Homo sapiens: one gene and its partners. The protein of the gene in region 4 interacts with the protein of the main gene of each other region in a biochemical or structural test. Each region holds a gene or a part of one and is shown on either strand. Other genes may lie near its edges. The genes, in order: MAP3K1, KEAP1, TNFAIP3 and IKBKB.

Region 1 (7,179 bases), on a different chromosome or scaffold from region 4:
TTTTACCAAATTTGTATTGCTTTTGCACCATCTTAAAGTAAAAAACTTGTATATCAAATCCTCTCTGAATAAATATACAGACTATTTATTTACCTTCATGCTAGATTGTTAGGGAGAACCCATCAAAATTTGCCTCCTGCCAAATTCTGCTGTACTCCTTTTAGCACAAAGAAGTAATTTTTATCTCACAATTACCTTAAATATCAAAGCAAGATGATTGGAGTGTTTTTCTGCATTCCATGGTGGTTTTGCACAAGCCATTTCTATAATAGCACAGCCAACACTCCATACATCACAGCTCCTTCCATACTGTTGACCTCTTAGTACCTAAAATAAATCAGAGTTAATTTGGAAATAGGACTCATTTGAAAAAGAGAAGGCCATTTTGTAGTTATAGATTCTACTTCCTTACTTTAGGGAGAAAACTGGTACAAACAGGAATTCTGTGGACTACCTAATATCTAATTTATTTCATTAATGAGCTTAATTTTCCAGGTAGCACAAAAATATTTTGGAGAATTGTGAGATTCTGAAGCAGAGTCCCATCACAGAATTTTGCTCTTAGCAAACTATGTGGCAAGAGGACAACAGATCATTACTACATATGAACATGAAGAATTATGAACACGACAGAAGAAGCTGAGTCAGAAGAACAATGCTTAAACTCCTTCCACTACAGACAGGAGCTGCCTCTGTATGCTCATCTCCTTTTAGAATAGAGAGAGAATATTTTTAAAAATTTCTTATGTGCACTTTGAGTTTATTACAAAACAACTGCTATAAATTACCCCAGAATTCTTTATTAGTAACAGCCGTTAAGTAAATCTATTAAAACCTGTTTTTTGAATATTGCCAAGGCAAAGAAAGGTCGAGAATAAGGGTCTGAAAGATATTATTAAAACCGTATTTTAAGGGCCACGGACTTCTAGTTGGTAAGTACATACTGGATACCACTGCAAGATAATTTAGTATAATGCTGTTACACAGAATTCCAAAATATTTTCTGTCATCACACTCAAAGATGCTTCTCACCTCAGGTGCCATAAATGCAATTGTCCCCAGTAATTGTCCCTGAAACTCTCCTGCACCAGTTCCTTTTGATGCCAACCTGGCTGCAGCTCCAAAATCTGCAATTCTTAGTCTCTGACCAGTGCTGTCAATTAGCAAATTGGCACCTGTCAACAAACACAGCAAATGACCTTGTATGTTAAAAACAAAAATAAGGACAGATAAAAGCCCAGTACAATACTAATGAACTAGGACAATGACAAAAGAAAGAAGTGAACTACATGTCAGAGGTGCAAACAGTTATTCTCTTTTCCTTTCACTTCATTCTTGCTAAAGGCACACAGCTCTCTCTAGCGTACGCTAAATTCATAATTAGAGCTTAATTTAAAAAGTTATAAAATTACTTCAACACATTATGTCAAATACTAGCTAAAAAGACTAATGACAGAAAACCAAATTTGCTCTTGAGAAAAATAAACTGAGGCCAGGTACGGTGGCTGACGCCTGTAATCTCAGCACTGTGGGAGGCTGAGGCAAGCGGGTCGCTTGAGCCCAGGAGTTCAAGACCAGCCTGGGGGCAACATGGCAAAACCCCATCTCTACAAAAAATATAAAAAATTAGCCAGGCATGGTGGTGCACACCTGTTGTCCTAGCTACTTGGGAGGCTGAGGTGGGAGGATCACTTGAGCCCAGGAAATGAGTTACAGTGTGCCAAGTTTGCAACACTACACTCCAGCCTGAGTGACAGAGAACCTGTCTCCAAAAAAAAGAAAAGGATAAGGAAAATAATGGGACCTACAAAGGATTTGAAGGAATTTTTCTTAAAAGAAGTTGATGATATCCCAATATCCCAATTATTCAAAATAAAACCAGGAAAAGGAACTTTCTGGGAGTCAGCGTATCATGAGGCCAAGACAGGGAATCTGGAGACCTGTGTTGTATACTTTCTGCCATTAACTAGCAATAAAACTGTAGAAAAGGCACAGCCTCTCTTGTATTCAATGTACTTTTCTATTAAACGAGGAAGGCAGATTAAATGATCCCTAAGGCTCATTTCAGTTCTAATATTCTGAATTACTCAGAGAAAAAAATCCCACTGTTAGAAACTATCAACAAAGGTCCATTTTTTTGTTCTTCTTTGAGACAGAGTCTCACTCTGTCACCCAGGCTAGAGTGCAGTGGTGTGATCTCAGCTCACTTCAACCTCTGCCTTCCGGGTTCAAGCAATTCTCCTGTCTCAGCCTCCCAAATAGCCAGGATTACAGGCATGCGCCACCTTACCCTGTTAATTTTTGTATTTTTAGTAGAGACAGGGTTTCACCATGTTGGCCTGGCTGGTCTCGAGCTCCTGACCTCAAGTGATCCACCTGCCTTCACCTCCCAAAGTACTGGGATTACAGGTGTGAGCCACTGTGCCTGGCCCCAAATTTTAAAATTAATTTTTTTATTGTCACTAGATAATAATTAGAAGAATTCTCACCTTTGACATCTCTGTGAATGATTTGGTTTTCATGGAGATACGAAAGGCCACGGAGTAACTGTTCAGTGTAGTTAATAACTACTGATTCTTTGAAGGCTCCATATTTACTCAGCAAATGAGCCACCGATCCCCCTATAAGACAATAGAAATAATTATCATAAACTTAAGACAGAATTAAAAGTATTTATTACACTTTGGTTTCTAAAGTTTTCACTGCATGAACTCACATTCACATCTGAAACAGAAGAAAAACATTTCAAAACTAACATATTCCTGTATCATCTCAAAAACCTACTAATTAGGAGACATTTTCACAGAACCCACAGGGAAACCAGTTTATTGGAGAGTCAAGATTTCAGAAAGCTGTAAAAGTTAACAATTTCGGATTAAACTATTTCTGAAATGTACAATTCAATTCTCTGTCTTCTCAAAATACACAAAACAACTTTATTAATGACTAAAGTAAACAATGTTAACATATTATGTAGTAAAAGGTGGAAAGAATGGGAGGAGGAACAGAAAACCCAGAGTTAGGCGTCATATTCTACCATTTACTAGCTCTGACCTGGAACATGTCTCAAATTTAGCCGCTTTTAAAAGTGTTTATAGTAGTCAACCTATCTACTGTAGTGTAAATCTTTATTAAGACCAACCAACAGATAACATACTTAAGAACTGACTGGTAAAGAGAAATGCACTCTTAAATACACACACAAATCTAAGAAGTTAAACCAAACAATCTGTTCATCACATCAGGTCATTAATTTTATTGTATACATTGTATAATACAAAATAAAACTCAGTCTTCATTTATTTCAGCAGATGACAAGGTTCAACTTTATGCTTCAGTGCTAGTTTACTTGTAGTAAGTTTTCAAGTTATATGTTAATTTTGTTTGTATATTGTTATGTTAAAACACTTCCTCATCTGTCCAATTTATCATGGCTACCTGGAAATATACATATCTTATACATATCAAGTATTAAAAACAACAATGCTACACAATCATTTAAAAACACACTGGAAAAATTTAAAAGGTAGAGGTAGTCAATATTTCATTTATAGTAAATGAAATACAAAACGAAGTATTTGTGGTTCATACTAATATATTGGGGTGATTTGTTTTTAGAAACCCAAACTATTTGATAGAAATAAATTTTAATTAAACTGGTTTTTCCTAAATTGCAGAAAGTTAAATCCACGTACTACTATTTTGTAATTTAAAACATTAACATACCTGCCATCCATTCAATGAAGAGATTGTAATTGCTCTTCTCACACGTGGCTCCCAACATCCTAATGATGTTTGGATGATTCAGATGGCTCATCATTCTTATCTCTTCTCTTAGTGCTTCTACTACTTCTTCTTGCTCAGAAGATGTGTTTCTGACATAAGTCACCTGTTTCAAATAAACACGTTCACAAAGTTTTGCATATTTTCACTAGCAATCTGATCTAAAATGAACAAATGCAAACTAGCACTTTATTAGCAACAGATGGCATTTATGCTTATGGATGCAATGTACTTTAAACAAACCCAAGTCAAACTCTTTTAAACACTAAGAATCTAGCTTAAGCAGCAGTAAACATCAGAAAAATGACAAAAATATTGGGATATAGTCAATATTCCAATAGTCTCAGAGTAAAGATGAGAAAAGCCCAAATATGGGAGAAGAATCAACATGATTTAAAAATGAAAGTTTAATAATTTTCCTATCCTGATTAAGTATGCTCGTTATAATAAAAAGTAAACCACTGAAACCCCAAGATGGCACCGCACAAGTACACTGTTGAAAGAAGTACCTGAAAACCACCTCTACTACCTACAAAAAGCAAAACCAAAAAAACCTTTGTAAGGCCCATCTTGATATTGTAGTCTTACAATAATCATACTTCAACTTTTATTTATTTTTTTTTGAGACAGTCTTGCTCTGTTGCTCAGGCTGGAGTACAGTGGTGCGATCTCGGCTCACTGCAACCTCTACCTCCTGAGTTCAAGCAATTCTTCTGTCTCAGCCTCCTGAGTAGCTGGGACTACAGGTGCCTACCACCCTGCCCGGCCGATTTTTGTATTTTTAGTAGAGGTAGGGTTTCACCATGCTGGCCAGGCTGGTCTTGAACTCCTGGCCTCAAATGATCCAACCACCTTGGCCTCCCAAAGTGCTGGGATTACAGGTGTGAGCCACCACGCGTGGCCTCAACTTTTAACAATAACAGAATTCATGATGTTTCTGGTGCTTTAGAAACATCTACTTTGAAACTAAGTTTCTCAAAGTTTAAAGAACTAAAGTACACACACGTGGACATATCCTTTATTCTTTTTACTGAACATGCTTCATTTTGTGATTTGAGTCATTTCATTTATATGCTCACTAGATATTTACCTGTTTAACAGCCATTAAAGTTCCAGTTCCCACATCTTGAGCCTGATAACAAGAAGAAAATGCTCCAAGGCCTATCTGTTGACCTTTCAGCCATTCAGTGTCTTCTCTATACGGTTGTTTTGCTTTGGTATGTCCTGGTAGAGTCTCTGGTGTCTACATATTAAACGAAAGCAATCTTTTTACTGTTAAAGGAGTAAGATTTTGTGAAATTAGTCTGCAAGATATTATTCTTATTCAGTCTGGCTTCCCAAACCACCTATAAATGTGACCTCTGAATGGAAGGTATTTGTGACCGACAGCAAATGCAAAAGTAATCACCATTATACAATTAACCGGAAATGCCCATAGGCAAGAATTATTGCTGTTTAAACAGTACAAACATTATTGTTGTATAAGTAATAATTTTATGTGGAAAACTCTGCTTCTGAATGTTAGAAGCAGCATTTCTGAATTAGGTTTATTTTAGTATGGTCCAAGGAAGCTCTCTGTGAGACAGTGTCTTGCTCTGTCATTCAGGCTAGAGTACAATGGTGTAATCACAGCTCACTGTAGCCTCAAACTCCCAGGTTCAAGTGACCCTCCCCACCTCAGCTTCCTGAGTAGCTGGGACCCCAGGTGTACACTATCATGCCTGGCTAATTTTTAAAATTTTTTGTAGAGACAGGGTCTTGCTTTGTTGACCAGGCTAGTTTCGAACTCCTGTGCTCAAGCAATCCTTCGGCCTCAGCCTCCCCAAGTGCTGGAATTCCAGGTATGAGTCACTGTGCCCAGCCCCAAGGAAGTTTTCTAACCTCTTAAAGAATCTATACTTACATCCTGTTGAATAATGATGATATCTTCTCCATTTTCAACCTGCAGCTGAGGAACTATGGGGAGGGCATCCTGAGACGCTGACATTGCCATGGCAATTGCTAAAGCTTCTTCTTCTTCAGCTTCCATCTTCTCTTTGCACTTTTGATTATGATTCACATCATCTTTGTAGGTATCATCATTTTCAGCCTTTTCAGGAGACAGGACAGCAACTTCTGACTTAAAAGTTACTGTTGTATCACTTGAAGGCATAGATGCTTCAAGAAGGTCCTCAATACTGGAGTTGAGCTCTGTATTGACATCTAATCTGCATTTCTCCTCTACTGGGGTGAACACTGTCTCGTCACTGGGTATAACAGCATTACTACTATTGCTGCTACAGCCAAAGCTGTCATCACATTTGGAACTACTGTTCAGATCAAGTGTCATGCTATTTTTTGAGGGATCTCCCTGTTTACTTGTATTACCTGGGGTAGGTCTAGATGGCTTTGGCCTGTGTATGTTACTGGAGGGCAAGGGTCTTGACTGAGTAAAGACTGGGGAAAGTTTATCTGAGTCTTTGTTTTCAGGACAGTTTCTGTGGAATTGTAGAGAAAACTTGCGCTGTGTTTGAGGAGATGCAGAAGGTATTCTGCAGGGAATGAATCCCTGAAGTCTATGCTTAGAGACATCTGTTGCAGTGCCAGCTGGTACAGATGGGGTAGAAGAAGAAGGGGTTGACAAGGCTGGAAACATTAATTGGGAATGATGAGATAAAGGAGAGGAGTTCAAACACTGACTGTGGGGTCTGCCTTTTGTTTGAACCATTGGCTTTGGTTGCTCTGTTGTTGTTGTTGTTGTTGTTGTTGAACTAGAAGGTCCTACTGAAATGCTGGCCAGTCTCTCAGAAATGTCCTCTGAACTGGCACTCAATTTTGTAGCACATAATCCTTTTCCAGTTTTCTCTAAATGGACTGTGCACTCAGGGGAACTGTTCTCTGTGGTTTCCAGATAGTTGTTGGGAACAGATGCCTGCAAGAAGCTGTCCTGTTGACCATCCAAAGTGTCTTCTACGCCCAACTGGATGGCTTCGGCAATTTCCACCTCATCTGCAATAGCCATCAAACGGCGACGCATCCTGGTGAAGTGAGTGGAACTGGAAACACTCAGCATTTCTAACAGTTTTGAAAACACATGGGGTACTGTAGTAACCATTCTTGCAGAACTCAAGTAGATCCTTCTGGAAAGTTTGCCAACCATTGAGTGGGAATTATCAATGGACTGCAAAGCAAAGGTTAAGAGGGACAGCAGCTTCTTATACCTGAAAGAAAAAAACATTCATTACCATATAAGTTCCAATTACTGAAAAATACATGGAAACTTAAAAAATGGTAGTAATTTACAGCATGTATACTTCAAAAACCATTTCAGCATAAAGTATCTATGAATTTTTAATTAAAGAGCCCAGACTTTGGGTTTTCATATGTCAATCAAATATTAAGGTATCAGCAACCTAT
Region 2 (7,179 bases), on a different chromosome or scaffold from region 4:
CCATCCGGTGGGGAAGTGCCATCCGGTGGCTTCTATGTACAGGCCCATCCCTGGGAACCACATTTCCAGAGGGGGCCTCCCCCTGAGGCCCCCATTGGCCCCCTCCCAGGTATCCAAGAATAAATCACATGGTGACAGCTGCCGGCATGGGTGAGTGGGACCCAGGCCTATTACCCGGCCAGAGGGTTTGGGGGCCTCTCTCCTGGAAGCCTGCTCTTTCCACACCCCCTTTCCCAGCCAGGCTGTCTTGGACACTCCCGGGGCTCCGCTGAGGGGCACATGATTCCCGCTTTGGACTTCTTTTGAGATGTCATTTTAACACTGAGGCATCCTGGCCTCCCTTCCCGGAAGATGGGTTATTTGCAGTGCTGTCTTTTCTTTTAGTCCCGGTTTTTGTACAAAAACAATGATACTCCCCATTGGACTGTATTTTTGCCCAAGAAACAAAAGTGCCTCAACAGGTACAGTTCTGCTGGTCAATCTGCTTCCGGCAGGGCTCCATGGTGACAGCCACGCCCACCCCACTCCGGCCCGATGTCATTCGGGTCACCTCGCTCCAGGTGTCTGTATCTGGGTCGTAACACTCCACACTGTCCAGGAACGTGTGACCATCATAGCCTCCTGCGGGAAGAACAGAAGGGATGGTCACCACCTGTCACACCACATCCAAGAGCAGGGGACAGAAAGAGAGAGATGCAGCTGTGAGATGCAAAAGCAGGCCGGGCGTGGTGGCTCACGCCTATAATCCTAGCACTTTGCAGGGCTGAGGCAGGAGGATTGCTTGAGGCCAGGAGTTCGAAGCCAGCCTGGGCAACATAGCAAAACCTTAGTCTCTTACTAAAAAAAAAAAAAAAAAAAAAAAATGGCCAGGCTTGGTAGCTCACGCCTATAATCCCAGCACTTTGGGAGACTGAGGTGGGTGGATCACTTGAGTCCAGGAGTTTGAGACCAGCCTGGGCAACATGGTGAAGCCCCATCTCTACAAAAAAACATAAAAATTTAGCCAGGCTTGGTGGTGCGCGCCTGTAGTCCTAGCTATTAGGGAGGCTGAGGTGGGGAGGATCAGTTGAGTCTGGGAGGCAGAGGTTGCAGTGAGCAGAGGCTGCACCACTGTACTCTAGCCTAGGCAACAGAGTGAGACCCTATCTCAAAATAAATAAATAAAAATAGGAAAATAGGCCACTCGCGGTGGCTCATGCCTGCAATCCCAGCACTTTGGGAGGCCGAGGCGGGCAGATCACCTGAGATCAGGAGTTCGAGGCCAGCCTCGCCAACAGAGTGAAACCCTGTATCTACTAAAAATACAAAATTAGATGCGATTGGTGATGCACGCCTGTAATCTCAGCTACCTGGGAGACTGAGGTAGGAGAATCGCTTGAACCCGGGAGGCGGAGGTTGCAGTGAGCTGAGATTGTGCCACTGCACTCCAGCCTGGTGACAGAGCAAGACTCCACCTCAAAATAAATAAATAAATAAATAAACAAAAAATAAAAAAATAAAAATAAAATAAAATAAAGGCCGGGCACAGTGGCTCATGCCTGTAATCCCAGGACTTTCGGAGGCTGAGGCAGGTGGATCACCTGAGGTCAGGAGTTCAAGACCAGCCTGGCTAACATTGTGAAACCCCGTCTCTACTAAAAATCAAAATTGGCCGGGCATGGTGGCTCACACCTGTAATCCCATCCCTCTGGGAGGCCGAGGCGGGCAGATCACCTGAGGTCAGGAGTTCGAGACCAGCCTGACCAACATGGAGAAAACCCTTCTCTACTAAAAATACAAAATTAGCCGGGCGTGGTGGCGCATGCCTGTAACCTCAGCTACTCGGGAGGCTGAGGGAGGAAAATCGCTTGAACCTGCCAGGTGGAGGTTGCAGTGAGCCGAGATCGAGCCATTGCACTCCAGCATGGGCAACGAAAGTGAAACTCCATCTCAAAAAAAAATTAGCTAGGCGTGGTGGCACGTGCCTGTATTCCCAGCTACTCAGGAGGCTGAGACAGGAGAATCACTTGAACCTGGGAAGCAGAGGTTGCAGTGAGCCAAGATTGCGCCATTGCACTCCAGCCTGGGCAACATGAGCAAAACTCTGTCTCAAAAAAATAAAATAAAATAAAATAAAAATAAACAAAAACATTAAGCTGGGCGCGGTGGCTCACACCTGTAATCCCAGCACTTTGGGAGGCTGAGGTGGGCAGATCACCTGAGGTCAGGCGTTCAAGACCAGCCTGACCAACATGGTGAAACCCCATCTCTACTAAAATACAAAAATTAGCTGGGCATAGTGGCAGGCGCCTGTAATCTCAGCTACTTGGGAGGCTGATGGGGGAGAATCACTTGAAACCAGGAGGCGGAGGTTGCAGTGAGCTGAGATCGTGCCATTGCACTCCAGCCTGGCAACAGACTGAGACTCTGTCTCAAAAAACAAAACAAAACAAAACAAAACAAAAAACAAAACAGGCCGGGCGCGGTGGCTCATGCCTCTAATCCTAGCACTTTGGGAGGCCGAGGCAGGTGGATCACGAGGTCAGGAGTTCGAGACCATCCTGGCCAACATGGTGAAACCCTGTCTCTACTAAAATACAAAAAATTAGCCTGGTGTGGTGGCATGTGCCTGTAGTCGCAGCTACTCAGGAGGCTGAGACAGGAGAATCGCTTGAACCCAGGAGGTGGAGGTTGCAGTGAGCTGAGATCATGCCATTGCACTCCAGCCTGGGCAACACTGTGAGACACCATCTCAAAAGAAAAAAAACATTAGCCGGGTGTGGTGGTGCGCGCCTGTGGTCCCTGCTACTTGGGAGGCTGAGGCAGGAGGATGGCTGGAGCCCAGGCTGTTGAGGCTCCAGCGAGCTGTGATCACACCACTGCACTCCAGCTGGGCAACAGAGCGAGACCTTGTTTCTAAAAAAAAAAAAAAAAAAAAAAAAAAGGAAAGCAAAAGCAAAAGCAGTCCACAAAAGATGGGCTAGTCAGGACTCTTCCCCGCCCCCAGGGCCTCACCAAGGACGTAGATTCTCCCCTGGTGGACAGTGATCCCCAGGGCACTTCGCCGGTGCTTCATGGGGGCTACGAAAGTCCACGTCTCTGTTTCCACATCGTAGCGCTCCACGCTGTTCAGCTGGTCCTGACCATCATAGCCCCCAGCAGCATAGATACAGTTGTGCAGGACGCAGACGCCTAAAGGGCACCATGCAGAGAAGGTGACTCTGGGGGTCTGGCTTTGGGAACCCCAGCCATCACCTCCTTGAGGGAGACCTTTCCTCTCTCCTCTCCCTTCTCACCCTCAGAAATGAAGCGGGGAGAGAGAGAAGCTTGGACTCTATCAGAATCCAGGGCTTCTGTGGTTACCCCAGCATGAGGGTTGCAACAGGGGGTCTCTCCCAGGCCTGGCTCAGTTTCACCCCAGGATGGTAGGGGGTGTTCCTGGGTGCTCCCCTCCCTACCGTCCCCACCCACCTGCCCCGCTTCGGATGGTGTTCATTGCTGTGATCATTCGCCACTCGTTCCTCTCTGGGTAGTAACACTCAGCTGAATTAAGGCGGTTTGTCCCGTCAAAGCCCCCCACGGCATAAAGGAGACGATTGAGGACAGCCACGCCCACCCCGATCCTTCGTGTCAGCATTGGGGCCACCAAGTGCCACTCATCCCGCTCTGGCTCATACCTGCAAGGGCGTAAGAAAAATGGGGACAATGGCCATTATAGCTGACCTTCGTGGAATACTTAAGGGCCAGATACTCTTTTTTTTCCTTTTTTTTTTCCCCCTTAAAGAGACAGGTTCATCCGGCGCGATGGCTCATGCCTGTAATCCCAGCACTTTGGGAGGCCGAGGAGGGCGGATCACCTGAGCTCAGGAGTTTGAGACCAGCCTGGCCAACATGGTAAAAACCTGTCTCTACTAAAAGTACAAAAATTAGCTGGGTGTGATGGCAGATGCCTGTAATCCCAGCTACTCGGGAGGCTGAGGCGAGATAATCACTTGAACCTGGGAGGCGGAGGTTGCAGCGAGCTGAGATCATGCCACTGCACTCCAACCTGGGCAACAGAGCGAGACTCCATCTCAAAAAAAAAAAAAGAAAAAAAGAGACAGGGTCTTGCTCCGTTGTCCAGGCTGGAGTGCAGTGGTGCAATCACTGAAGCTTCAAACTTTTTTTTTTTTTTTTTTTTTGAGATGGAGTGCAATGGTGAGAGCATGGCTCACTGCAACCTCCACCTCCTGGGTTCAAGCAGTTATTCAGCCTCAGCCTCACAAGTAGCTGGGATAACAGGCACCCACCACCACGCCCGGCTAATTTTTGTATTTTTAGTAGAAATTGGGTTTCGCCATGTTGGCCAGGCTGGTCTCAAACACCTGACCTCAAGTGATCTGCCTGCCTCAGCTTTCCAAAGGGCTGGGATTATAGGCATGAGCCACCACACCCAGCCTGCAGCTATCAACTCTTGGGCTCAAGGAACCCTCCTGGCTCAGCCTCCTGAGTAGCTGGGACTACAGGTGCACACCACCGTGCCCACCTCCACTCGAACTCTAGTGCTTGCAGTTGTTCTCCAAGGATTGAGGTATCAGCAACTCCATTTTCCAAATGACAAAACTGAGCCTCCTAGCCATCAATTGCTCAAGTTCAAAAACACATCTGATAAACCCCTAGTGGCTCAGCCAGATCCCCCACTTCACAGATAACAAGATAACATCTCAGAAAGGAGAAATCACACATTCAGCATCACTCTTTGATGCTCAAAGAGTCCTTTAGGTCCGGCACAGTGGCTCACACCTGTAATCGCAGCACTTTGGGAGGTTGAGGTGGGAGAATCCCTTGAGGACAGGAGTTCAAGACCAGCCTGGCCAACATGGTGAAACCCCATCTCTACAAAAAATACAAAAATTAACCAGGCGTGGTGGTGGGTACTTGTAGTCCCAGCTACCCCAGGGTCTGAGGCAGGAGAATCACTTGAACCTGGGAGGCGAGGTTGCAGTGACCCAAGATGCACTCCAGCCTGGGCAACAGAGCAAGAGAGACAGGGTCTTACTCTATTGCCCAGGCTAGTCTCCTGGACTCAAGCAATCCTCCCACCTCAGCCTCCCAAAGTCCCTGATTATAGGTATGGGCCACAGTGCCTAGCCCAACAATTTCAAACTGATGGAACATTTTCCAACTCCGCACAAAGGAACCATATGGGTTTGTGACAGTCCCCTAAGCATTTCCCAGCCCCAGGCACAGAATCAAAGGTCACTGACTAGAACTCTCCAAGGAGCTTAGCTTCATCCTGAGGCCTCCACTCCCTGAAGACAGGAAGAGGAAACAGCCTCAGGAAGAATACCCGGATCTCAGTGTCTTGGGACTTGCCAGGAGCAGGACCCTCCGAGCCCACCCCCAGGCCCTGCCACTCACCTCTCCACACTGTTGTGGTGGATGCAGCCGTGGGAGCCGCCGACGGCATAGATGTGGCCATCGATGACCCCCACCCCGATGCGGTTACGGGGCACGCTCATGGGGGCGCAGGGCGACCACTGATTGGTCATGGGGTTGTAACAGTCCAGGGCGCTGGAGTCGGTGTTGCCGTCGGGCGAGTTGTTCCTGCCGCCCACGGCGTACAACAGCCCGCCCACCACGCAGCCGGCCAGGCCGCTCCGCGGCACCTGCAGGTCCGCCAACCGGAGCCAGGTGCCGTCACTGGGGTTGTAAGCCTCCAGGTAGCTGAGCGACTGTCGGAAGTAGCCGCCCGCGGTGTAGATCAGGCGGCCCACCTTGGGCGCCCGGCAGGGCATCACCTGCGTGGGCTTGTGCAGGGTGAGCTCCTCGAAGATCTTGACCAGGTAGTCCTTGCAGCGGGAGTCGGACTGCAGGATCTCGCACTTCTGCAGCTGCATCTGCAGGAAGTTCGGCGTCAACGAGTGGCAGCGCACGGCCCGCAGCAGCGCCTGGACGTAGAACCGTCGCTGTTCGCAGTCGTACTTGACCCAGTTGATGCAGGCGTGGAAGACCTCGGACTCGCAGCGCACGTTCAGGTCGTCCCGGCTGATGAGGGTCACCAGTTGGCAGTGGGACAGGTTGAAGAACTCCTCTTGCTTGGCCACCTGCAGAGGGCGACAGTGGGACGGGCTGACTCTCCAGTCACCCCCACACCTCACCAAGCAGGACCGGGACAAGTAACTTATCACTGCCGCTGACAGTCTCAGCTTCCTTATCTGCTAAATGGGGATTCAAATAATAGGAACCGCGTACATTGTGATGACTAAATGAGTTAATCCTGCCGGGCGCGGTGGCTCACGCCTGTAATGCCAGCACTTTGGGAGGCCGAGGCTGGCGGATCACGAGGTCAGGAGTTGAGAGACAAGCCTGGCCAATATGGTGAAACCCCATCTCTACTAAAAATACAAAAATTACCCGGGTGTGGTGGCACACGCCTCTAGTCCCAGCTACTCGGGAGGCTGAAGCAGAAGAATCGCTTGAACCCGGGAGGCGGGAGGCGGAGGTTGCAGTGAGCCGATATTGCGCCACTGCACTCCAGCCTGGGCGACAGAGCAAGACTCTGTCTCAAAGAAAAAAAAAAAAGAGTTAATACTATGTGCCAAGTATGTCATCAGGACTCAGGAAAATGGGCAAAGACTCAGTAGATCGTGTACCCTGGGGTATCATTTGGCTTTGGTTTTTGAGACAGAGTCTCACTCTGTCACCCAGGCTGGAGTGCAGTGGCATGATCTAGGCTCACTGCAACCTCTGCCTCCCAGGTTCAAGCAATTCTCCTGCCTCAGCCTCTCAAGTAGCTGACATTACAGGCACCTACCACCATGCCCCGTTAATTTTTATTTTATTTTATTTTATTTTGATATGGATTCTTACTCTGTTGCCCAAGCTGGAGTGCAGTGGTGTGATCTTGCTTCACTGCAACCTCCGCCACCCAGGTTCAAGTGATTCTCCTGCCTCAGCCTCCCAAGTAGCTAGGATTACAGGAGTGTGCCTCCAGAGCAGCTAATTTTTTTTTTTTTTTTGGAGACAGTCTTGCTCTGTCGCCCAGGCTGGAGTGCAGTGGAGCGATCTCCGCTTGCTGCAACCTCCGCCTCCTGGGTTCACGCCATTCTCCTGCCTCAGCCTCCCGATTAGCTGGGACTACAGGCGCCCGCGACCACGCCCAGCTAAGTTTTTTTGTATTTTTTTAGTAGAGATGGGGTTTCACCGTGTTAGCCAGGA
Region 3 (7,663 bases), on a different chromosome or scaffold from region 4:
GACTAGCCTGGGCAACACGGTGAGACCTAGGTCTCTACGAAAACAAAAAATGAAAAACCGCAAAATAATAATAGAACAATAAATTCTATACTTCTAAGAACAGATATTGGAGCTCAATCATTTTAACTCAACTGCCAATGAAATTTTATCATCACCCTCCAGGTACCAACACAGAGGCAAGTCTGCCTGGCTTTTCACCCTGAAATCTTTAAGCATAATCAACTAGTAGAAGGAATGAAAATCTAGAAGTAGACAAGGAAAGAAGTTTCCACCAGGAGGCCACTCTGGCAAATGAAGGAGGAAAGGTGGCAAAGACCAGCATCTACAACCCATGCCAACAGCGCAGGATGATGCAAATTAACATGATGTAGGATCTCTCCAGTGTGGAACACTGTAAAAAGCCAGCTGTGATTTACTAGCCCTTAGTAGGGTGTCTGGCCACACTTCCTAATTTCCAAGAAGATGAAGAAGTTTTCAGAGCACAAAGACATTCCCTAGGAAATTTCACAGTGATTGTTAATTCCATTCCTGCAACATCTTATTTGCCAGGGCAACTTTCCAGTTAATAAAAATGTTAAACCTATGGAAGAGGGAGGAGAAGAAACCTAGATTTTAGGGTAGCTACTTCTGTGTGGGTCTAGACTCTCAACACCATTGATAAGGTGTTGAGATAATTCTTGTGGCCCACTCAAAGGAGAGAGGTTGGACTAGATGACCCATGGTTTCTCCTGAGGAGTTTTCTGGTGATAGTTTTAGATTGGGATTCTTAATCTGATTGCTGGGAAAGGCATAGTGGGAGTCATTCTCTGGATCAGATGGTGCTCTCTTTTGATGTCAGACGTCCTCTACAGGTGGAATTGGGCAAAATCATAGCAGGATAAAAATAACACATATACCTTTCCTTTGTGGCACAGCAAAAGTCTCTTTCACAATATCATCTATCCGTCCGTCCGTCCGTCCGTCCATCCATCCATCCATCCATCCATCCATCCATCCATCCATCTATCCATCCATCCACCCATCCACCCAACAAGCACTACCTGACCACCTACTGAAGGCCAATCACCATGCTTGATGATGGGACTAAAAGTCAAAGATGACCTTATTCCCTTCCCTGAAATTACACTACCACCTTAGTCTGCAGCTAAGGCAATGGAGTTACAGGTACTGCTCAGATCCCACAGCCATTCAGGGGCAAAGTTTTGCCTAGGAGCCAGGTCTTTCAATACCTGCCCCTTGCAATCCCACAACACCAAACCTGTGGCTACAGTGCCTGCCACAATCAGATGGAAAGAGATGGGCAGTAGGAAGATTTTAAACAAATGAGGTGTTATCTCTTTTTGCTTGCCTGACTCTTTTATTTTTCTCTTCTGAATCTAAAGATTTTTCACCAAAGATCTAAAATAGTGAGAGCTGTAAACCATAGGCAAGACATGCAAATGTCAATATCGGATACGCCAGTGTGATCTCATTGGTAGGGTTAGCCTTGCACAGCCTGTAAAACTGCCTCCTTAGAAATCAAAACCCACTGCCCAGATTTCCAGGTCTTGGACCACTCTACGCTTAAGATTAAAGAACAAATGTTTCAGATACGTTATAAGTGGCAAACAATGCAATATTACCCTTAACTTTTTTTTTTTTAACATTTGTTACCTCACTGTCTTATTTAAAGGTAGTTTCTCAACTTTTGTCACTAGGATTCCACAGAACTTCTCCGTTACTCAAACTCTTCTCCCCCTTGTTTTATTTTTCCACTCTGGGCAGACATTTTTGTCTGCATTGTGGAAATTGATGAATTATTTATCAACAAATACCTCATCCAAATTTGGGGATGTGCCTCTCCAAAAAATCAAAAATAGTACAAAGAATTGAAAAAAAAATCAAAGCAGCACCTTAAACAATGAGAATGAAGCATTCATTGGCTGCTCAATAATCTGGTACATTAAGGTTGCGGTCCAGAAGTCCCTTTAATTAACAATGGTTCTGCCAAAATGCTACCCTGAGACACTTGACCAGACTGGCTTTCCAAGGCAAGAAGATCTGAGGCGAGGAGAACCGAAAACAAAGCGGGCTCAAAAAGAGTTAAGCTCCTTCCTTACTTAATGCCACTGCTTTTCTGAGAGGCCAGGTGGCAGGATGTGGGACGACTCCAGCTGACAAAGACAGTCTAACCGTGGGGTAGGGGCTGGAGCAGGGGCCAGCGACCCACGTCTACATGCATACTTCTCTTACACTGCTGCTACTGGAAAAGCTGAACCCCGCGCCAGGACCCCAGCCCCCTGCAAGGACCCGTGAGCGTCTGGGAAGCTGTCTCTGGGACTGAAGCCCCCCACCTCCGCCGGGCTGGCGGCCACTGCGGTACCCTACGCCCCGTCGGGCTGGTCCTGCACAATTTGGGAAAAAGCCGCAGCGCTTCTGCAAGGTCTACGTGGCCATGAGCATGCAACGCTTGGCTCCAAAAAAGACACGAAAGGAGCAAAGCGCCAACGACCACCCGATCGGAGGGCCCGAGGGGCGCCTCTTCACCAGTCAGCTGCAGCTTAAGTTCCGTGCATTATCTGAAAGGAACAGCTGGCTGGAGGTATCCAGGGCTGTCACTCCAACCTCTGCAGCAGTGACCTCAACTCCCAGCACTTCAAAACCCAGACAGAAACGTCCAACAAACTCCCAGTCCAGGAGCGCTGCAAAACCAACGCCAGGTAGACGGTGCCAGCCCGGGGGTCGCTGCCCAACATGCACCCGCAGCCCTTGACTGCGGTGAGCCCGAGGCAGACGGCACGGGGAGGCGCGGCGGTTACCTCTCCGGGAGGCGCGGCGGTTACCTCTCCGGGAGGCGCGGCGGTTACCTCTCCGGGCCCCGCGATCCTTTCGCAAAGTCCCAAGTCCTGGTCAAGGCAGGAGCGCGCCGCAGGCGGGGGTCGGGGCAGGGACCGGGCGGAGGCGACGCTCCATGGACGCCTGGGGTCGGGCTCGCTCGCTGGCAGGGTCGGCTGGGGGTGTGATCTCTCTTGGCGGCCGCTCTCACCGCTCCGCCCCCGCGGGCTCCAAGCTCGCTTGGCCCGCCACGAAGACTGCAGACTGCGCAGTCTGCTTTGCCCCGTTTCAGTTGTATGCGGGTTGTAGGCCCGGGGATTTCCACGGGACTTTCCAAAGTCACGTGACTCTCTGGGTCGGGCTGCGAAGTGCGTCCAGCCGGCCGCCAGAGGGCGCAGGGGGCGAGGGGCGCGCGCGGCCTCCGCCCGACCGGGCCTGCGGGCCCCGCCCCGCCCCCTTTCCCTGCCCCGCCCCGCTGCCCCGCCCCGCCCGGTCCCTGCAGGCGCCCGGAGAAACTCCCTCGCCCCGCCCCGGGGTGTCCCCGCGTGAGTCACCTGGGCATTTCGGAAGCTGGGGTCACGTCACATCCATGTGGAAATCGCGGTGATGGGAACTGGAAATGAAATAGGTTCTTTTTCGCAGTTGTTTTTCTGCAGAAAATCATCAACTGTGGAGAAGAAGAAGGGAAATAAGAAAGAAAGAAAACCCTAAAAACCACCCTGGCGCCCGGGCCCGCAGGCCTCGGGCCGGCTCTGAAAAGTTTGGGCTGTGCACGTGATGAGCGCGTAGGCGGGAGCCCCAGACAGGACCCGGGCGGGCATTTCGAGAAAAAGCAGCGGTGACAGCCTTTGGTCCCCATCTCCATTGTTCCTGCCAGCTCTGGACCCCAGGCTGCATGAGACGTAGGTCCCAGGGGACACCCGACCCCGTGGCCCCAGTCTTAGGTAAACTTAGGAATCAGAACAACACTCACCCCTATGCCGCGCTTGCTCCATTTCCCCTTGTCTATTTCTGCTCACCAAGCATCCAGCTGACATTGCATTCAAAGCAGCATTTCAGCTTAGAAATCGCTTCTAGTCCATCACGGTGCTTGCCATGTGTCTCCAAGGCTTTATTAGGTGTGTTTTTAGTTGTCCTGATAATCAGTTCACCCCAGGGTGCTGATGGCTGATAATACTGGCGCTTCCCTCCCTACCCCCATGCGTTGCACAGGGAGGGTGAGTCATGTGGAGATGGATGCAGCCCCCTGGGCAGTGGGGGTGCAGGTGCTGTGCAGGGAGGAGTCTTAGGGCGTTTTTACTGTCTTACTGCCCTCTAAGCACGGGACCCTTTGGATCATTTACTAGATTGGCTAAACTAGAACCGGATGGAAATATTCTGTACTATGGTCCCCTTAATTACATTTAAGAATACTTGTCAGGCCATATATCACAGGTTTTTAATTAGAAAAGTATCCTCCTCTCGCCAGTAAGGACTTGCAGAGATGGGGGTGGGGGCTGGATGGAGGGTGGCACTTTTTTGGCAAAAAGAAGTTTGGAGCAGAGTGTCACTAGTGGCCTCTCTGAAGACTGGTCCTCGTCTTTTAAAACCGATGGCTGGAATTTCTTCCAGTTCCAAACCTCTTGTTATTTGTCCTCTCTTCTTGTTCACAAATGTGCTATCAACATTCAAACAATGGATAGTCAGCTATCCATTGTAAATGGACCTTGCTGGAGTCCAGGGCTAGCAGAAATGACAGGGTCTAAAATGACATTTATCAAGTACTTGCTATATGCTTATATATGCTTTTTATATGAAGGTTAAGAAGCTTGAGGCATTTGCCCAGTTTCCACAACCAAAAGGGGCAGAGTCGCCAGTGGCATTAAGCCTGTGTTACTCCAAAGCCCATAATGACCAGTCTTACTAGACCATTCCTCTCAGGAAAGATCCTGTGAGACAGGTACTCTTTTGGTGTCCTGTCTCCCAGCCTCTCAAAACAGCCAAACACGGACCTTAGACAGAATGCGGCTTCAGAGGTAGAAGGGTCTTGGTTTCACCTTCAGGAAACCTCCTGGGTTTCAGTTGAGCTGGCAGAAGAAGATCATGTATCTGAAAGACCCTGCATGGAATGTTAATCCTCACACCACTCTCCTGCTGGTGCTCCTTTGTAAACAGAGTTGGCCTGTTTCCTCTCATCTCTGGCTCCATGACTTCAATCCTCCTGCAGCTTCCACTGCCCCTATCTGGCTCATGTCTTGCTGTCTGGTGTCATGAACTGGGAGTGCAGTAAAGAGGAGTGACAAGCCTGAGGGGCCACGTTCATACCTGCCACTGCCAACTGTCCTGATGTAACTGCTTTGTCATCTTGCCTGCCAGGATTTGTGACAAGGTAATAGCAGTCAGATGCAGGAGTGGTCTATAGCCCTGGATTATGTTCGAACTCCACTTTCCATGATTCTACTGCTGGGCTTGTGAATTGCCACTCCCACCACCAGGCGGTCTTTACTGTCCTTTCCACCTTCTAAATCAGCGCTGTGTTGGGCTGTACCCTTGCCTTTTCCCCTTCTATTATGTAACACATGGACAAGACCAATGACAATTTTCTTGGTGAATCAGAAGGAAAGAAAAGAAGAGAAGGAGAGAGTATAGATGGAATGCCTTCTTATGAAAAAAAGGAGAAATACAATTTGGGGAGATTTGTTGAATAAGTTGAAACCAAAGAGATATAGAATGCTGAAAAGCCTTGAAGGAGATTTAATTTGAGCTATAGGCCTTGTCAAGATGGACAGAACTCTTTAAAGAAGAGAATATTTATTAACATTTAGTAGACACTTAGGAGAAAAAATATGTCTCCTTATTAGATGAAAAAGGAATTCTGATTATGTGAAATATTTTTGGAGAGTTCCTAAGTTACGTGCCATTTTGACACCAATGCTGGGGTTTATGGGTCATGAACTATGTAAAATGAGCACACATGACCTCTTGGAATTAAACGGTTCCCGTGAGACTGTGCTTGCAGCCTGTATCCCTGTACCATGCAGTAAAAAAGATGTGCTTGCCCAGATGGGGGGAGCAGGAAGAACCTGATGAAAGAGAGCACCACGTGTGACAAGTGAGAGGAGACCCTGCTGAGCTCAAACATATTTCATGAGCCTTTCTTAATCAAGAATCAGCAACAGTTGATTGGTTGTTGATTCTTTTTTTTTTTTTTGAGACGTCGTCTTGCTCTGTCGCCCAGGCTGGAGTGCAGTGGCGCGATCTCAGCTCACTGCAAGCTCCGCCTCCCGGGTTCACGCCATTCTCCTGCCTCAGCCTCCCGAGTAGCTGGGACTACAGGCGCCCGCCACTACGCCCGGCTAATTTTTTGTATTTTTAGTAGAGACGGGGTTTCGCCGTGTTAGCCAGGATGGTCTCGATTCTCCTGACCTCGTGATCCACCCGCCTTGGCCTCCCAAAGTGCTGGGATTACAGGCGTGAGCCACCGCGCCTGGCCCCTGGTTGTTGATTGTTAATTAGCATGCGTCTGCAGTCCCAGCTACTCGGGAGGCTGAGAGGGAAGGGTCCTTTGAGTCCGGGAGTTTGAGTCTATCCTGGGCAACATAGTAAGACCCATGTTTCTAAAAATTAAAAAAATAAAAAAGAAGAAATTATGTATTTTTAATAATCAGTGACACTCTCTTTCTGAGACTGTACAGAATTCCAGGGCATGGCAGTCATGGGCCAAACTAAAACTGGACCTTTTGTGTCTTTTGTACAATTGCCCCCTCCCCTTTTCCCTGCACTGTGCTCTATTGGAAAGGCAGATTCATAGAAAACATATTGGGAAGCAGCCTTAGGTAACTATGGCAGCTTAGTTATTGTAGGGTAGCTTTGAATCATGTTTCAGATTTTCAAATTCTGCCTCAAACATTACTAAAGGGTAACGTTTGCACATTCAAGGCCACTACAAGGGCTAGTTCTGAGAATAAAGAGAAGCTTTCTGTGGATTATAACCGTGAGAACTGGGATAATGATGTCATAAATTTCATCATCCTATGAATGCCAAATTCTACTGAATGTTGCTTCTTATCTAGGGACCTCAGATCCTTTACATGTGTTATCTGGACTGAATGGAGAAACCCAAGACCCACCATGGTGGAGGGACAACTGAAGTCCTTAGTGACCCAGTGAGTCATAGTACCAGGATCAAAGACCCTCCACTGGGAAGGAGGCAGTTGGTGTAATGACAAGTACAGTTCCTTCTGTTGCACTTTGCCTGAAAGCGTGCGATGCTGACATCTCAAACTTGTCAGAAAATCCACTATCCCTGTGAATTCTGTTTTATTTCCTGTCAACACTTGGCTGAAACACTTGGGAAAGTAATTTTATTTTACATCATAAATATAAATATTCAATTCTTAGTTTCATTTATGTTTCTGTGAAGGCTGCTATTAATGACCAAATAGGATGTTAGAAAGCCCAGAAATGGGTGTTATTAGGAACGAGCTAGAAAGCAGTGTTGGTTTTAGCAGTAAGCCCGGTGTTTCTGAGATAAATTAGTTCCTGTTACTTGGAATAGTGCAAGCCATTGTGAAAATTTGCCTTGACATTCCCCTTTCTCATTTGTCCCTCAATCCCTTCAGTCTAGTTTGGGGTCTCTATAATCCTGCTCCTTTGGCTGCCAGCCATCTCCATAAAAAAAGAATTTGAAAGGCTTCCATTCTTTCAGAGACCTGTTTCCCGGGACTGGCTGGTAAGATAAATCATGCTCATTTTTCAAACAGATTGTGATGTGTTACTGTGTTATATTTCTTGATAAAATGTTCTTACAGAACTTCCTAGAGCTTAATGGTGGAAATTCCAAGCACTTTAGCAGGCTGGAGAAAGAGCT
Region 4 (7,731 bases):
AACCCACCAAAACCAAGATGGCCACGAGAGTGACATCTGGTCGTCCTCACTGTTATACTCCCACCAGCACCATGACAGTTTACAAATGCCATGGCAACATCAGGAAGTTACCCTATTTGGTCTAAAAAAGGGAGGCATGAATAACCCACCCCTTGTTTAGCATAAATAAATAAACATAAAAATGGGCAACCAGTAGCCCTCGGGGGCTGCTCTGTCTAAGGAGTAGCCGTTCTGTTATTCCTTTACCTTCTTTTTTTGTTTGTTTTTTTTTTGTTTTTTTTTTTTTTGAGGTGGAGTCTCGCTCTGTCGCCCAGGTTGGAGTACACTGGCGCGATCTTGGCTCACTGCAAGATCCATCCACCTCCTGGGTTCACACCATTCTCCTGCCTCAGCCTCCTGAGTAGCTGGGACTACAGGCGCCCGCCACCATGCCTGGCTAATTTTTTGTATTTTTAGTAGAGACGGGGTTTCACCGTGTTAGCCAGGATGGTCTCCATCTCCTGACCTCGTGATCCACCTGCCTCCCAAAGTGCTGGGATTACAGGAGTGAGCCACCATGCCTGGCCCCTACTTTCTTAATAAACTTGCTTTCACTTTACTGACTCGCCCTGAATTCTTTCTTGCGCGAGATCCAAGAACCCTCTCTTGGGGTCTGGATCGGGACCCCTTTCCTATAACGGTACTGTACTGTGGTACTAATTACTGCAGAACAAATCCGTGTGTGATTTTATATTGCCTGGCCTTTGTCTGTCCTTACTTCATGGCTCCCTGTGGGTCTTAAAAACCCAGTAAGATTCTAAGTGCCTCTGATGAGATCTCATTCCATTGCTTGGATCCCCTGGGTCAGTAATGCCCTGGGCTGAGCTAGGCACTCTGGCTGGTCAGTATTTCTTGATTTCCCTATAGCACAGCTAAAAAGCACACTCAGCCTCAAAGCAGGAAGAAAAGGGGACATTTTTCTGCTGAATCTGAAAATATCTTTTGTAAACAGTCTGCTCATATCTCCAGAGCAGGACAGAAACCAGATGCAGGCAGAGATAGCTAAACATGTCTTATCTGGATAGAAAATTGAGCTTAAGATAATAAATATCTTGGAATATGATAAAACCCAGAGGCCCCTTCCTGGTCCATGATTAATTGAAGAAAAAAAAAGCCTAGTAATACGTGACCTTATCAGAGAGATTTATGTTCAGTTGAAAGCCAAGTTATTTTGAGCTGAGCAAAATGAGGATTCAAATTACAGGAGCGCAGAGTAAACTTTTGGCATATTAGCGGACATCTTGGTAAGTTTCTCAGGACAGTGTTTTTCAGAGATGACAGGATTAAAGAGAAACCTTTTATGACATTGTACTGGAAATGGACTCTCCACAGTGCCCAGCACATATAGGTGCTCAATAATTTTTTTTTTTTTTTTTTTTTTTAGATGGAGTTTTGCTCTTGTCGCCCAGGCTGGAGTGCAATGGCACGATCTCGGCTCACTGCAACCTCTGCCTCCTGGGTTCAAGCGATTCTCCTGCCTCAGCCTCCCGAGTAGCTTGGATTACAGGCACGTGCCACCACGCCCAGCTAATTTTTTTGTATTTTTAGTAGAGATGGCGTTTCACCATATTGGCCAGGATGGTCTTGATCTCCTGACCTCGTGATCTGCCCGCCTTGGCCTCCCAAAGTGCTGGCATTACAGGTGTAAGCCACTGTGCCTGGCCTAATTTTTGTATTTTTAGTAGAGACGGGGTTTCACTATGTTGGCCAGGCTAGTCTTGAACTCCTGACCTCAAGTGATCTGCCTGCCTCGGCCTTCCAAAGTGCTGAGATTACAGGGGTGAGCCACCACACCCGGCCAAATTTTTTTTTTTGAGATGGAGTCTCGCTCTGTCGCCCACGTTGTAGTGCACTGGTGCGATCTCCACTCACTGCAACCTCCAGCTCCTGGGTTCAAGTGATTCTCCTGCCTCAGCCTCCCAAGTAGCTGGGATTATAGGCACCTGCCACCACGCCCAGCTAATTTTTGTATTTTTCGTAGAGACGTGGTTTCACCATGTTGGCCAGGCTGGTCTCAAATTCCTGACCTCAAGTGATCTGCCTACCTTGGCCTCCCAAAGTGCTGGGATTACAGGCATGAGCCACCTCACCTGGCCAATAAATATTTTATTTAAAAAATTTACTTATTAAGCAAACACTTATATTGCACTTAGACAATGCAGTCACTATTCTACGTGTGTTACAACTATTTACTCATGTTCCTGTTGCTTCTGGCCTTGAGGCTGAGCTTGCCATTTAGCTGGGAGTAATCAAGAAATACCAGGCCAGAAGCGGTGGCTCACACCTGTAATCCCAGCACTTAGGGAGGCCAAGGCGGGAGGATTGCTTTGAGGCCAGGAGTTCAAGCCAAGTCTGAGCAACATAGTGAGACCCCCATGTCAACAAAATAAAATTTAAAAATTAGCTGGTCATGGTGGCACGTGCCTGTAATCTCAGCTAGTGGGGAGGCTGAGGCGGGAGGACCCCTTGAACCCAGGAGGTCAAGACTGCAGTGAGCCGTGATCCTGCCACTATACTCCAAAGTGGGCGATAGAGAAAGGCCCTGTCAAGAAAGAAAAAAGAAAGAAAAGGAAAGAAAAGGAAAGGAAAGGAAGAAAGGAAAGGAAAGGAAGAAAGAAAGGAAAGAAAAAAAAGAAAGCTAGCAGCTGGGAAGGGAAGGGGAGGGGAAGCGAGGGGAGGGGAGGGGAGGGGAGGGGAGGGGAGGAAAAGGAAAGGAAAGAAGGAAAGAAGGAAGGAAGGAGGAGAGATAGGAAGGAAGGAAAAGAAGGAAAAGAAAGAAACCAAGTAGCCGGGAAGGGAAGGGAAGGGGAGGGGAGTGGAGGGGAGGGGAGGAGAGGGGAGGGGGAAGGAAGGAAGGAAAAGAGAGAGAGAGAGAAAGAAAAAGAGAAAGGAGAGGGAAGAGGGGAGAGGGGAGAAACCGAGCAGCCAGCGTGCCTAGCACAGCCCTGGACACCATTGACCCCTATGTTTGGGTTGAGATCTGTCCCTGAGTTAACTTCAACCCCAGGGCTGTCAGGCACTGCTGCTATCAATACCTCATTTGTCCCTCACAACAACTCTGGGGTGGCCTCCTTTCTATGACTTTCTATGAGCCCGCCTGTCCCCCTGCTATTACAATGAAGCAGATGAAACTGCTGATCTTTGTTACTGATGTTTTGGCTGTTTTCAATTTCCAAAAAATGACAATTAAATGCAATTCAACCTAATATTGCCTAAATTTTAAAAGAGGAAATAGGTTCTCACAGTGTTTAAGTAACCAGCCCCCGTGCCTCAGAGGTAGTCAACAGCAGTATCTGGATTCAAAATCCAGTTTGCCTCCTTCTGAACTTCTTAACATGCTACTTTTAGCCACGGATTAAGAACCCGGGAACCAGTTGCTAGGGTTTGAGTATCAGCTCATCTACGTAGCAGCCATGTACCTTGGAAATAATAATAATGCAGACCAGGTGCAGTGGCTCACAGCCTGTAATCTCAACACTTTGGGAAGCCCAGGCGGGTGGATCCCTTGAGCCCAGGAGTTGGAGACCAGCCTGGGCAACACAGTGAGTGAGACCCCGCCACCAGGTATGGCGGCCGCGCACCTGTAGTCAGGAGAATCACTTGAGCCCAGGAGTTGGAGGTTGCACTGAGCTGTGATCACACCACTGCACTCCAGCCTGGGTGACAGAGCGAGATAATAATAATAATGATGATGATGATGCAGTATTTTCCAATTTACAGGGTTGCCCTGAGGATTGAATAAGGAAATCTAAGTACAGAGATTTAGAACAGAGCCCTGCACTGTGTAAGCACTCTATAGATGTGAGCTATTATTATCATCTTCAGGTTCCTTTGGTAGTTTTTTTCTGCTTGAATAAAATATAGCAACACACACACACACCTCCTTTGTCCACTAATGTAATCCCATAAAACGGAGAAACTCAGCAGTGAGGACATTCTGATTCCAAGCAGGAAGGAGATGAACGATGAACCTCAGGCTGAGCGCCTCACGGTTTCCTCATGTCACCGGGGCTGGGGGTGCAGTTTGGCTTCACACTGCTAGGTCTTTTCTTGTTTTTAAGGGGGCAGGGGCTGTCACCTCTGAGGAGTCAGCTGTGATTGATCCTTCTCCACACCCAGCCAAGCACCCCCCAGACAGGGGAGCGCCCGCAGTAGGGCGGTAGGCAAGGGCAGTTCTAGCCAACAGTCCCTAAATCATCCCAGCGGGGGCGCGGGAAATTCCACCGAGGTGAAAGCCTAGGGGGCCGGGTGAAGAAATCCCCATACCCGGGCCCAGAAACCGCTCCAGGTGGAAGTAACTTGTCTAAAGAGAACAGGGTGTAACGGGGGTCATTTCAGGGCTGTTCTTTTAAATCGGTGAGCACGGTCTGTCTACTTTCCCTCAGTTGTCTAGAGACCACACGCCACCCCCGCCCCGGGGGAGTCGCCCGGTCGAGGGTCCCGGGACAGGCGCAGCACTCGCAGCATCCGGACCTGGTCTGCCTCGCGCCGGGAGCGGCCTCTTTAAGAGCGGCCGCGGCCAACGTGCTCCGTGACGTCAGAGCAGGAAGTGTTTGAGGAAGTCGCGCCGCGCTGCCCGCGTTAAGATTCCCGCATTTTAATGTTTTCAGGGGGGTGTCATAGCCCCGGGTTTGGCCGCCCCAGCCCCGCCTTCCCCGCCCCGGGGAGCCCGCCCCCTGCCCCGCGTCCCTGCCGACAGGTGAGTCCCCCTCGTGGGTGCGGCCCGGGTGCCACCTGCAGGCCCCGCCGCCCCGCTGCCTGCAAGGCCCGGAAGACCCCTCTGTGCCGCTGGGAAGTCGCAGCTTGCGGACTGGGGAGCGTTTCACTTGTGCGGGTTGGAGTTCGGGAAGCCGGGAGAAACAGCTCTCCCTGGGGTGGCTTCTTGGGGGTGGGTGGCTTTGAGGGGAACCTGCGATTTATGGGAACATTGTAAAGAAACACGTGACCTCGGCGATGCTCAGAAGTAGGTTCTGCCCCTGCCACCTCGGGCAGAAGGCGGGCAGGCCCGGGCGCCCCTGGTGGAGTCAGCTGGGGATCCCCTCGCTAGGGCAAGGGCGTGGGCATCGCCTCCCTCGGTGACTTTCTTCCTTGCCTGATGCCACAGCAACCGGATGGGGGAGGGTGAGAGGGACAAAAGTTTGCCACAAAGTTTGGACCAACCAAACACATTGGTTTCTTTACAAAATAAAAAACCAGTTGTATTTTTCTTCTCTCCCATTCAAGAGCAGTGGTATCTCTTGCCTTCTCCATCCCTTTGAGCTCCATTTTTTTCTTAATCCTAACCTTTTTTCCCCATCCCAAATTGCTTATAGAGTTAGCACGACATCAGTATGAGCTGGTCACCTTCCCTGACAACGCAGACATGTGGGGCCTGGGAAATGAAAGAGCGCCTTGGGACAGGGGGATTTGGAAATGTCATCCGATGGCACAATCAGGTAGGCCCTCTGTGCAGCTTGGGGAGGGGCGGGGAGCCAGGCCCCCTCCTCACTGCCTCCACTTTCTCTGATCCTGCTGGGCCAAGGGCTCACCTTTGGCTTTGGTCATCTTGGGACAGTGAATAGGGGGACTGGGAAGAGGGCTTCAGGACTTCTGAGCTGACTCCAGGTTAGTGGTCTCCATGCTTTATTGACTATGTCACCTAAATAAATAGTAAAATAAAGTTAAGCTCTTAGTCTCTATTATATATATATGGTAACAGTAGAATATCATGTACTAATATATACTGATATTATATGTTATAAAACATATAGAAATAGGAAAATTTAAAGGATGAGACTAAATAAATAATTTAAAATATTTTAATTCCTTGAGGCCAGTAGTTCAAGAGCAGCCTGGGCAACATAGCAAGACCTCGTCTCTACAAAAAAGGTTTAAAAATTAGGCAGCCAGCTGGGCGTGGTGGCTTATACCTGTAATCTCAGCACTTTGGGAGGCTGAGGCAGGCGGATCACGCAGTCAGGAGATGGAGACCATCCTGGCTAACACTGTGAAACCCCATCTCTACTAAAAATACAAAGAATTAGCCAGGCTTGGTGGCACGTGCCTGTAGTCCCCAGCTACTTGGGAGGCTGAGGCAGGAGAATCGCTTGAACCCATGAGGCGGAGGTTGCAGTGAGCCAAGATTGCGCTACTGCACTCCAGCCTGGGTAACAGAGTGAGACTCCGTCTCAAAAAAAAAAAAAAAAAAAAAACCTTAGGCAGCCTTGGTGCGTACCTGTAGTCCCACTACATTGGAGGCTGATGTGGGAGGATTGCTTGTCCAGGAGTTTGAGGCTGTAGTGAGCTATGATTGTGCCACTGCACTCTAGCCTAGGTGACAGAGTGAGACCTTGTTTCAAAACCATTTTTTAAAAATTATTTTAAATGTCGGGTGCAGTGGCTTACACCTGTAATCCCAGCACTTTGGGAGGCCGAGGCAGGAGGATCACTTGAGGTCAGGAGTTTGAGACCAGCCTGGCCAACATGGTGAAACCTCATCTCTACTAAAAATACAAAATTAGCTGGTGTGGTGGTGCATGCCTGTAACTTCAGCTACTCAGGAGGCTGAGGCAGGAGAATCGCTTGAACCCAGGAGGCAGAGGTTGCAGTGAGCCGAGATAGTGTCACTGCATTCCAGCCTGGGTGACAGAATGAGACCCTGTCTCAAAAAATATATATATATATATATATTTAAAATATTTGCTAATTATGATGTCTTCCCAGTATTGCTTGCGATACTGCACGGCAAAAAATAAGCAGATCCACATGAAAGTGAGAATTCATTTAGAATGATGATGAAAATCCATATTTCAAATAATTAACATTTTTTTAAATTTTGTAGAGATGGGGTCTTGCTATGTTGCCCAGGCTTGTCTCAAACTCTCATCCTCAAGCAGTCTTCCCGTCTTTGCCTCCCAAAATGTTTGGATTACAGGCCTGAGCCATGGGACCTGGCCTCAGCTGAGGTTTTTTTTTTATTTTTTGTAGTGATGGTGGTCTCACAATGTTGTCCAGGCTCGTCTAGAACTCTTGGCCTCAAGTGATCTTCCTGCCTTGGCCTCTCAAAGTGCTGGGATTACAGCCATGAGTCATTGAACCTGGCCTGTTTTTATTTTTAATTGACACATAATAATTGTACATATTTATGGGGTACAGTGTGATATTTTGATACATAATGTGTAATGATCAAATCGGGGTAATTGGCGTGTTCATCACTTGAAACACGTATCCTTTTTGTTGGAAACAGTCAAAATTCTTTCTTCTGGCTATTTTGAAATATACAATATTTTTTTTTTTCCGGAGACAGAGTCTCGCACTGTTGCCCAGGCTGGAGTGCAGTGGTGTGATCTTGGCTCACTGCAACCTCCGCCTCTTGAGTTCAAGTGATTCTCCTGCCTCAGCCTCCTGAGTACCTGGAATTACAGGTGTGCACCACCATGCCAGCTAATTTTTGTATTTTTAGTAGAAATGGGGTTTCACCATGTAGGCCATGCCGGTCTCAAACTCCTGACCTCAGGTGATCTGCCCACCTCAGCCACCCAAAGTGCTTGGATTACAAGCGTGAGCCACTACGTCCGGCCTGAAATATACAATAAAGTTTTATTCACTGTAGTCACCCTGTTGTTCTTTAGAATACTGTAACTTATTCCACCTAACCGTAATTTTGTACCCATTAACCAGTCTCTCCCTATTTCCCTCCACAACTCCCCCCAC

The links.
Region 1: of the proteins of IKBKB (region 4) and MAP3K1, one has a biochemical effect on the other in vitro, tested with the Homo sapiens proteins (3 studies listed by BioGRID and IntAct).
Region 2: the proteins of IKBKB (region 4) and KEAP1 form a complex in vitro, tested with the Homo sapiens proteins (one study listed by BioGRID).
Region 3: of the proteins of IKBKB (region 4) and TNFAIP3, one has a biochemical effect on the other in vitro, tested with the Homo sapiens proteins (2 studies listed by BioGRID and IntAct).

What each region holds. Positions count from the first base shown.
Region 1 is NC_000005.10:56,881,374-56,888,552, reverse strand, and holds part of MAP3K1 (mitogen-activated protein kinase kinase kinase 1), read right to left. Parts: intron 6,984-7,179; coding exon 5,687-6,983; intron 5,027-5,686; coding exon 4,874-5,026; intron 3,890-4,873; coding exon 3,727-3,889; intron 2,622-3,726; coding exon 2,490-2,621; intron 1,176-2,489; coding exon 1,033-1,175; intron 328-1,032; coding exon 196-327; intron 1-195. UniProt on the Homo sapiens protein: Component of a protein kinase signal transduction cascade. Activates the ERK and JNK kinase pathways by phosphorylation of MAP2K1 and MAP2K4. May phosphorylate the MAPK8/JNK1 kinase.
Region 2 is NC_000019.10:10,486,198-10,493,376, forward strand, and holds part of KEAP1 (kelch-like ECH-associated protein 1), read right to left. Parts: intron 6,066-7,179; coding exon 5,380-6,065; intron 3,657-5,379; coding exon 3,451-3,656; intron 3,172-3,450; coding exon 2,995-3,171; intron 622-2,994; coding exon 455-621; 3' UTR 1-454. UniProt on the Homo sapiens protein: Substrate-specific adapter of a BCR (BTB-CUL3-RBX1) E3 ubiquitin ligase complex that regulates the response to oxidative stress by targeting NFE2L2/NRF2 for ubiquitination.
Region 3 is NC_000006.12:137,862,678-137,870,340, reverse strand, and holds the start of TNFAIP3 (tumor necrosis factor alpha-induced protein 3), read right to left. Parts: upstream 3,083-7,663; 5' UTR 2,799-3,082; exon of another isoform or gene 2,100-2,798; intron 1-2,099. UniProt on the Homo sapiens protein: Ubiquitin-editing enzyme that contains both ubiquitin ligase and deubiquitinase activities.
Region 4 is NC_000008.11:42,266,732-42,274,462, forward strand, and holds the start of IKBKB (inhibitor of nuclear factor kappa-B kinase subunit beta), read left to right. Parts: upstream 1-4,570; 5' UTR 4,571-4,738; intron 4,739-4,826; exon of another isoform or gene 4,827-4,992; coding exon of another isoform or gene 4,993-5,002; intron 5,003-5,351; coding exon of another isoform or gene 5,352-5,369; coding exon 5,370-5,474; intron 5,475-7,731.